Linked DNA regions of Homo sapiens: region 1 is linked to region 2. A link means that fine-mapping ties the variant in region 2 to the expression of a gene that starts in the linked region. Tissue or cell type: testis. Region 2 holds a variant in brackets; the other region holds the start of a gene. All regions are shown on one strand. Distances are from middle to middle.

Region 1 (4,248 bases), 380 kb after region 2:
GTTTTGTCACTTGGAACAAATGCTATTTCCATGAATATGTACATTTTACATATCATCAATCCATTTATGAAACAACAAAGAGGGTCATAGAGACATGTAAACAAACAAGAAGCTCAGAACCCTGCTGAGGTATAATATAAAAACACCTGATTAAATAATCTGGAAGGAGGGTAAATGGTATGAAGAAATCAAAACAGGATGAATAGTTGAGCCACTCAAAGTTACAGGGAGCAAACTAAGTGGGAAAATAAATCGTTAACAGTTACAAAAACTGGAAATGTGCTTGTATATATGAGACAAATTGTCCATAAAATCAACTTGTTTATCTGACATTGGCTGGCAAGGATCTCCCTGTACTAGTAACACAGACATTCAACTAGATTAGGAGTCATCCAGCAACTTTTCCTGAAAATGGCAAAACAGTAAACATGTTTGGAGCTGTGGTCCACATCATCTATTCCATATTCTACTCGACCTCTGCAGCATGAGAGCAGCCATAGACAACACATAAACAAGTAAACAGGGTTACGTTTAAACAAAACTTTAAGTATAAAAGCAGTACTGATAGGGTTTTTGCATATGTTACTTTAATTATGACTTTAATTGCTTAAAGTATTTCCTGGAAACACGAAGTTGTTAACAAGTGTTAGTTATTTTTGTTTGAGAGAATTTCAAGAGATTGAAATTATCAACAGAGGAATGTGAAAGTCGTTGGGCATTAAGCTAAGCCATAAAAACTTTACCCTGAAAATCGTGGGGGTGTCCTTGAATGCCCACGAGTTTAATTTCCATTTTCTGCCTGAGGTTTTAAGGAGTATGCAGGATTAGGAGGGTAAACACTCATAGCTCATTAGTCTAACAGTGAAGAAACCATGAGGGCCTAGAGTAATGGAAAGGCAATGAAGTGAAAAGACAGTTAAAATGTGTAATTTTCCAAATACAGAACTGAGATATTTAAAAGGATTGTATGTGGTGGTTGGGTGCCATTACAAAGGAGGTGGATGAATTTTAGGCGTCTAGATTTGTGGTGCTGATGGTTGGGCAGGGGACAAGCACACAGGGAAACAAGGAAAAAAGATGTATTTAGGTTTAGGTAAAAATATCACATGCTCAGTATCCAATTCCTGTTAAACACCTGGAGATGGGAGTCTGTGGTGCAAAGGGAGTTCGAGTTTAACTATACACGATTGGGTGATGCTGGCATGCAAGGAGAGATGAAGCCATGGATTTCATTAAGGACCCCAATCTGAATGTGGACCGCACACAAGAATCAGAACCAAAACCTGGACACAGCCAAGACTGCAGGTTTCTCTTCCCTTGCTCCAAATCCACTTTCAGAAGAATTAGAGAAGAATTGACTAAAGAATGTAAGTAAACTCCAGGAAACAGGGTTCCACAGAAGCTGGGGAAAGGTCAGTACGTGGAAGAGAGAGATCAGTAGTACCTGCTCGCTACAAGGAGGCGCCTCCAAATGTCAATGCCTATTTTCAACAAGTGGGACCCAAAGTGATTCATGCCAGTGCTCTAAAATACACCTGACCCTTGAACAATGTGGGGGATATGGATGCTAACCCCCCACAGTCAAAAATCCAAGTTTAACTCTCAACTCCCCCAAAGCATAACTCCTAACGGCCTGCGGTTGACCGGAAGTCTTTGTCACTAATAATACAAAAAATTAAGACCTATTTTGCCTGTTATTCACATTACACACTGAATATGCTGCTCCCAGCGGAGGCCGAGACTCCTGCCCGGGCACCCCCTCACAGCCCCCACTCCAGCCTCCCCAGACTCACCCTCGGCGGGGCCACCTTCTTCTCATTTCAGTCTGGGGCCACATTCTCCGGGCCTGCGGGGCATGGCAGGAGGCAAAGCCAAAGGCGAAGTGGCCACAAATTCCGGTGGGGGCGCTGGCTCCTGCCCCACCCCAGCATCTATACCCTGAGTCTGATAGGACGAGAAGGAACATTTCAGCCAGCCCTGATTGGGTCATATTATCCAATCAGAGTTGTTTTGCACAGTGGCTCTCATCCAATCCGAACATGCCTTACAGGATATCTAGTTAAATAAGTCATTATAAATAGTTGCTCCGTGGGCTTTCCGCATTTCACCCTGCTCCAGGCAGCGTGGTCTGTATGGCTCCGCCCTGGGCAGGAGGAGAAAGAAGAGGGCCAGGCACCACGTGCCTGCACTCTCCCTGGATGCTGGAGGCTGCTCCGCCGTGGGCAGGAGGAGAAGGAAGAGAACTGGGTGCCGCCTGCCTGCACTCTCTCCGGATGCTGGAGGCTGGAGGCAGTGAGGCAGCAACAGCGCGAGGGCGAGGCGACTTTGGAGCTGCCTCATGCAGCGACCTCGCCTTCCGCTGCGCCTCCTCCCAGAACCCAAGAAGCCTGGAACCTGTGGCGTCCAGCCCTGAAAGGAGGAGACGGCAACCCAGCCGCGCGTGAGTCCGGGAGTCTGGGATACCGGCGGCAGAGGAAGGACAGGCAGGAGTCTCGGCCTCTCGGGGAGCGACGTGCCGGGAAAGGCAGGAGGGCCCCAGCGGTGGGGGCGGGGGTTGCGCGCCGGGGAGGGCGGCCTCAGGCTGGGAGCCTGGCAGATCGTCTGACTCTCCCCGAGCCCCATCCCAGGCCGAGCCAGGACCCCTCTGATGCACAGGCGTCTCAGGAGCCCGTTTCTTTCTTGAATCCGGGGCCCAGTGCGGCTTGAACCTAGCCCCCGACCTCCTCCTCGCCCTCTCAGAGTCCGCTGGGGTGGGCGCTGAAGGAGCCCGGGTCGGAGAGGAGCCCTCCCCTTCTCTCCTGCGTGGAAGCCCTGCAGCCTCCGTTTCTTTTGGGACTGGGGTCCGGGGCCTTCTGCCTGACCCGGGGTGAGAAAGGGAGCCCTGATCAGGACCCGGTGAGAGGGCGCTGGAGCCCGGGAGCGGCAGGAGCCTTGAGCGGCAGCCCGGGAAGAGGATGGGGTCACCTTCTGCCCCAGGTCCCCCACTGCCAGGATCTCTGTCACCTTCTGGGGGTCCTGTCCCCTGGGGTCCCACCCCCCGGGCTGCCTGTGGGTATCTCTCATCTGGAACTGGAAATAACCCTCTTCATAGTACGGCTTAGCAAATATTTATTCGCCCATGCACCCCCCTTTTTTTTCCTTCATAGTGTTCTTTTTGTCTTGGATCATTTGTGTTTTTCCTACATTGATGTGAAGCATTTTTAAAGACACTTTAGAGATTAGTCCTTTATTGGTTCATTTCTATTGTAGGTTGTTGTTTCCTACTCTGGTCTTTGTTGTTTAATTTCAGTTTTAATTTCTTGCTTGGTTTAGTTCATGTAACAATATTTTTCTTAGAATATTTGTATCTGTGTTTGTGAAACAGAACATCTATTATTTCTGGGTTTTTTATTGTCTGATCAGATTGTGTATTAATGTAATGCTGGCTTCTCGAAACAAATTGAAAAACCATCCCTTTCGTCTTTCTCTTTGAGAGAGAGTGAGCAGTGTCAATATTTTTTTCTTCCTTAAATATTTGGAACATTTTCAAAGTCTGATCCTGGTGTTTTCCTTGTGGAGCATTATTGTTGATTTGTTGGATTTTTAAAATTAGTTAGTTAATTTTGTTTAATATATATAGGAGTGTTCTTATTTTATGCTATTTTTGTGCCAGTTTTAGTAAGTTGGGTTCAGCATCTGTTGCGATCTCTGTTGTCAGACTTTTGATCATATGTATTTCACAAAATTCTCTGATTATCTTGTTATAATACTGTTATGTAGAGTTGTTGTTTTGATTCTGATACTGGTCACTTGTGTTCTTTCATCTTTTTTCCTTAATCAGTTTTGCCTGCACTCTCCCTGGATGCTGGAGGCTGGAGGCAGTGACGCAGCAACAGCGCGAGGCGACTTTGGAGCGGCCTCATATAGCGACCTCGCCTTCCGCTGCGCGTCCTCCCAGAGCCCAAGAAGCCCGGAACCTGTGGCATCCATCTCTGAAAGGAGAAGACGGCAACCCAGCCGAGGGTGAGTCCGGGAGTCTGGGGTGCCGGCAGCGGAGGAAGGACAAGCAGGAGTCTCGGCCTCCCGGGGAGAATTTCACAAAATTCTCTGATTATCTTGTTATAATACTGTTACGTAGGCTGTTGTTTTGATTCTGATACTGGTCTCTTGTGTTCTTTAATCTTTTTTCCTTAATCAGTTTTGCTAGTGGTTTATTAACTATGTTGTTTATAAAAACAACTTTTAGCCTTGGTTTATTTGTGTTATGTT
Region 2 (4,248 bases):
GACCCAAATGCAATCATCATCGAATAGAATCGAATGGAATCATCGAATGGACTCGAATGGAATAATCATTGAACGGAATTGAATGGAATCATCGTCGAATGGAAACCAATGGAATCATCATCAAATGGAAATGAAACGAGTCATCATCTAATGGAATGGCATGGAATCCTCAAATGGAATCGAATGGAATCATCATCGAATGGAATCTAATGGAATCATTGAACGGCATTGAATGGAATCGTCATCGAATGAATTGAATGCAATCATCGAATGGTCTCAAATGGAATCATCTTCAAATGGAATGGAATGGAATCATCGCATAGAATCGAATGGAATTATCATCGAATGGACTCAAATGGAATGAACATCAAACGGAATCAAACGGAATTATCGAATGGAATCGAAGAGAATCATCGAATGGACTCGAATGGAATCATCTAATGAAATAGAATGGAAAAATCCATGGAATCGAATGCAATCATCATCAAATGGAATCGAATGGAATCGTCGAATGGACTCGAATGGAATAAACATTTAAGGGAATCGAATGGAATTATCACTGGATGGAAACGAATGGAATCATCATCCAATGGAATCGAATGGAATCATCAAATGGAATCAGATGGAATCATCATCAAATGGCATCGAATAGCATTATGGAATGAAATCCAATGTGATCATCATCGAATGGACACGAACGGAATCATCATCCAATGGAAACTAATGGAATCAACATCAAATGGAATCGAATGGAAACACCATCGAATGGAAACGAATGGAATTATCATGAAATTGAAATGGATGGACTCATCATCGAATGGATTCGAATGGAGTCATCGAATGAAATTGATTGAAATCATCATCAAATGGAATCGGATGGAATCATTGAATTGAATCGAATGGAATCATCATCAGATGGAAATGAAGGGAATCATCACAGAATGGATCGAATGGATTCATTGAATGGAATCACATGGAATGATCGAATGGACTTGAATGGAATCATTGAATGGACTCGAATGGAATCATTATTGCATGGAATTAAATGGAATCATCCAATGGTCTCGAATAGAATCATTATCAAATGGAATCGAATGGAATCACCAAATAGAATCGAATGGAACAATCATCGAAGGGACTCAAATGGAATTATCCTCAAATGGAATCGAATGGAATTATCGAATGCAATCAAATGGAATTATCGAATGCAATCGAATAGAATCATCGAATGGACTCGAATGGAATCATCGAATGGAATGGAATGGAATAGTCAAGGAACTCGAATGGAATCATCATTGAATGGAATCGAATGGAATCATCGAGTGGAATCGAATGGAATCATGATCAAATGGAATCGAATGGAATCATCATTGAATGGAATCGAATGGAATCATCAAGTGGAATCGAATGGAATCATGATCAAATGGAATCGAATGTAATCATCATCAAATGGAATTAAAAATAACCATCATCTATTGGTATTGAATGCAATTGTCATCAAATGGAATTCAAAGGAATCATCATCAAATGGAACCGAATGGAATCCTCATTGAATGGAAATGAAAGGAGTCATCATCTAATGGAATGGCATGGAATCATCATCAAATGGAATTGAATGGAATTATCATCAAATGGCATCTAATGGAATCCTTAAACGTAATTGAATGGAATCGTCATCGAATGAATTGAATGCAATCATCGAATGGTCTCGAATGGAATCATCTTCAAATGGAAAGGAATGGAATCATTGCATAGAATCGAATGGAATTATCATTGAATGGACTCGAATGGAATCAACATCAAACGGAATCAAACGGAATTATCGAATGGAATAGAAGAGAATCATCGAATTGTCACGAATGCAATCATCTAATGGTATGGAATGGAATAATCCATGGACACGAATGCAATCATCATCGAATAGAATCGAATGGAATCATCGACTGGACTCGAATGGAATAATCATTGAACGGAATCGAATGGAATCATCGTCGAATGGAAACCAATGGAATCATCATCGAATGGAAATGAAAGGAGTCATCATCTAATGGAATCGCATGGAATCATCATCAAATGGAATCGAATGGAGTCTAATGGAATCATTGAACGGCATTGAATGGAATCGTCATCGCATGAATTGAATGCAATCATCGAATGGTCTCGAATGGAATCATCTTCAAATGGAATGGAATGGAATCATCGCATGGAATCGAAT[C/G]GAATTATCATCGAATGGACTCAAATGGAATGAACATCAAACGGAATCAAACGAAATTATCGAATGGAATCGAAGAGAATCATCGAATGGACTCGAATGGAATCATCTAATGAAATAGAATGGAAAAATCCATGGAATCGAATGCAATCATCATCAAATGGAATCGAATGGAATCGTCAAATGGACTCGAATGGAATAAACATTGAACTGAAGCGAACGGAATCATCACCGGATGGAAACGAATGGAATCATCATCGAATGGAATCGAATGGAATCATCAAATGGAACCCGATGGAATCATCATCAAATGGCATCGAATAGCATTATGGAATGAAATCCAATGTGATCATCATCGAATGGACTCGAACGGAATCATCATCCAATGGAAACTAATGGAATCAACAACGAATGGAATCGAATGGAAACACCATCGAATTGAAACGAATGGAATTATCATGAAATTGAAATAGATGGACTCATCATCGAATGGATTCGAATGGAGTCATCGAAAGAAATTGATTGAAATCATCATCAAATGGAATCGGATGGAATCATTGAATGGAATCGAATGGAATCATCATCAGATGGAAATGAAGGGAATCATCACAGAATGGATCGAATGGATTCATTGAATGGAATCACATGGAATGCTCGAATGGACTTGAATGGATTCCTTGAGTGGACTCGAATGGAATCATTATTGCATGGAATTAAATAGAATCATCCAAAGGTCTCGAATGGAATCATTATCAAATGGAATCAAATGGAATCACCGAATAGAATCGAATGGAACAGTCACCGAAGGGACTGAAATGGAATTATCCTCAAATGGAATTGAATGGAATTATCGAATGCAATCGAATGGAATTATCGAATGCAATCGAATAGAATCATCGAATGGACTCGAATGGAATCATCGAATGGAATGGAATGGAATAGTCAAGGAACTCGAATGGAATCATCATTGAATGGAATCGAATGGAATCATCGAGTGGAATCGAAAGGAATCATGATCAAATGGAATCGAATGGAATCATCATTGAATGGCATCGAATGGAATCATCGAGTGGAATCGAATGGAATCATGATCAAATGGAAATGAATGGAATCATCACAGAATGGATTGAATGGTTTCATTGAATGGAATCACATGGAATCATCGAATGGACTTGATTGGAATCATTGAATGGACTCGAATGGAATCATCATTGCATGGAATTGAATGGAATCATCGAATGGTCTCGAATGGAATCATTACCAAATGGAATCCAATGGAATCACCGAATAGAATCGAATGGATCAATCGTCGATTGGACTCAAATGGAATTATCCTCAAATGGAATAGAATGGAATTATCGAATGCAATTGACTGGAATTATCGAATGCAATCGAATAGAATCATCGAATGGACTCGAATGGAATCATCAAATGGAATGGAATGGAATAGTCAATGAACTCGAATGGAATCATCATTGAATGGAATCGAATGGAATCATCGATTTGAATCGAATGGAATCATGATCAAATGGAATCGAATGTAATCATCATCAAATGGAATCAAAAATAACCATCATCAATTGGTATTGAATGGAATTGTCATCAAATGGAATTCAAAGGAATCATCATCAAATGGAACCGAATGGAATCCTCATTGAATGGAAATGAAAGGAGTCATCATCTAATGGAATGGCATGGAATCATCATCAAATGGAATCTAATGGAATCCTTGTACGGAATTGAATGGAATCGTCATCGAATGAATTGAATGCAATCATCGAATGGTCTCGAATGGAATCATCTTCAAATGGAAAGGAATGGAATCATCGCATAGAATCGAATGGAATTATCATCGAATGGACTCGAATGGAATCAACATGAAACGGAATCAATCGGAATTATCGAATGGAATCGAAGAGAATCATCGAATGGACTCGAATGGAGTCATCTAATGGAATGGAATGGAATAATCCATGGACTCGAATGCAATCATCATCGAATGGAATCGAGTGGAATCATCGAATGGACTCGAATGG

Evidence for each region. PIP is the estimated chance that this variant, and not a neighbour inherited with it, causes the effect. A credible set is the group of variants that fine-mapping cannot tell apart.
Region 1: LINC00839 starts here. The variant in region 2 is the best candidate, but not a certain one, in a credible set for the expression of LINC00839 in testis (GTEx, PIP 0.73).

Annotation. Positions count from the first base shown.
Region 1 is chr10:42,473,441-42,477,688 of GRCh38, forward strand. It overlaps LINC00839 (long intergenic non-protein coding RNA 839), which reads left to right and starts at 2,051. Exons shown (of 5, transcript NR_026827.1): 1 at 2,051-2,440; 2 at 3,821-4,002.
Region 2 is chr10:42,096,056-42,100,303 of GRCh38, forward strand. No RefSeq gene overlaps it. Among named protein-coding and RNA genes, the nearest start is that of LINC00839, 380 kb to the right of the region's middle. The variant C/G (reference allele first, on the strand shown) is at 2,216.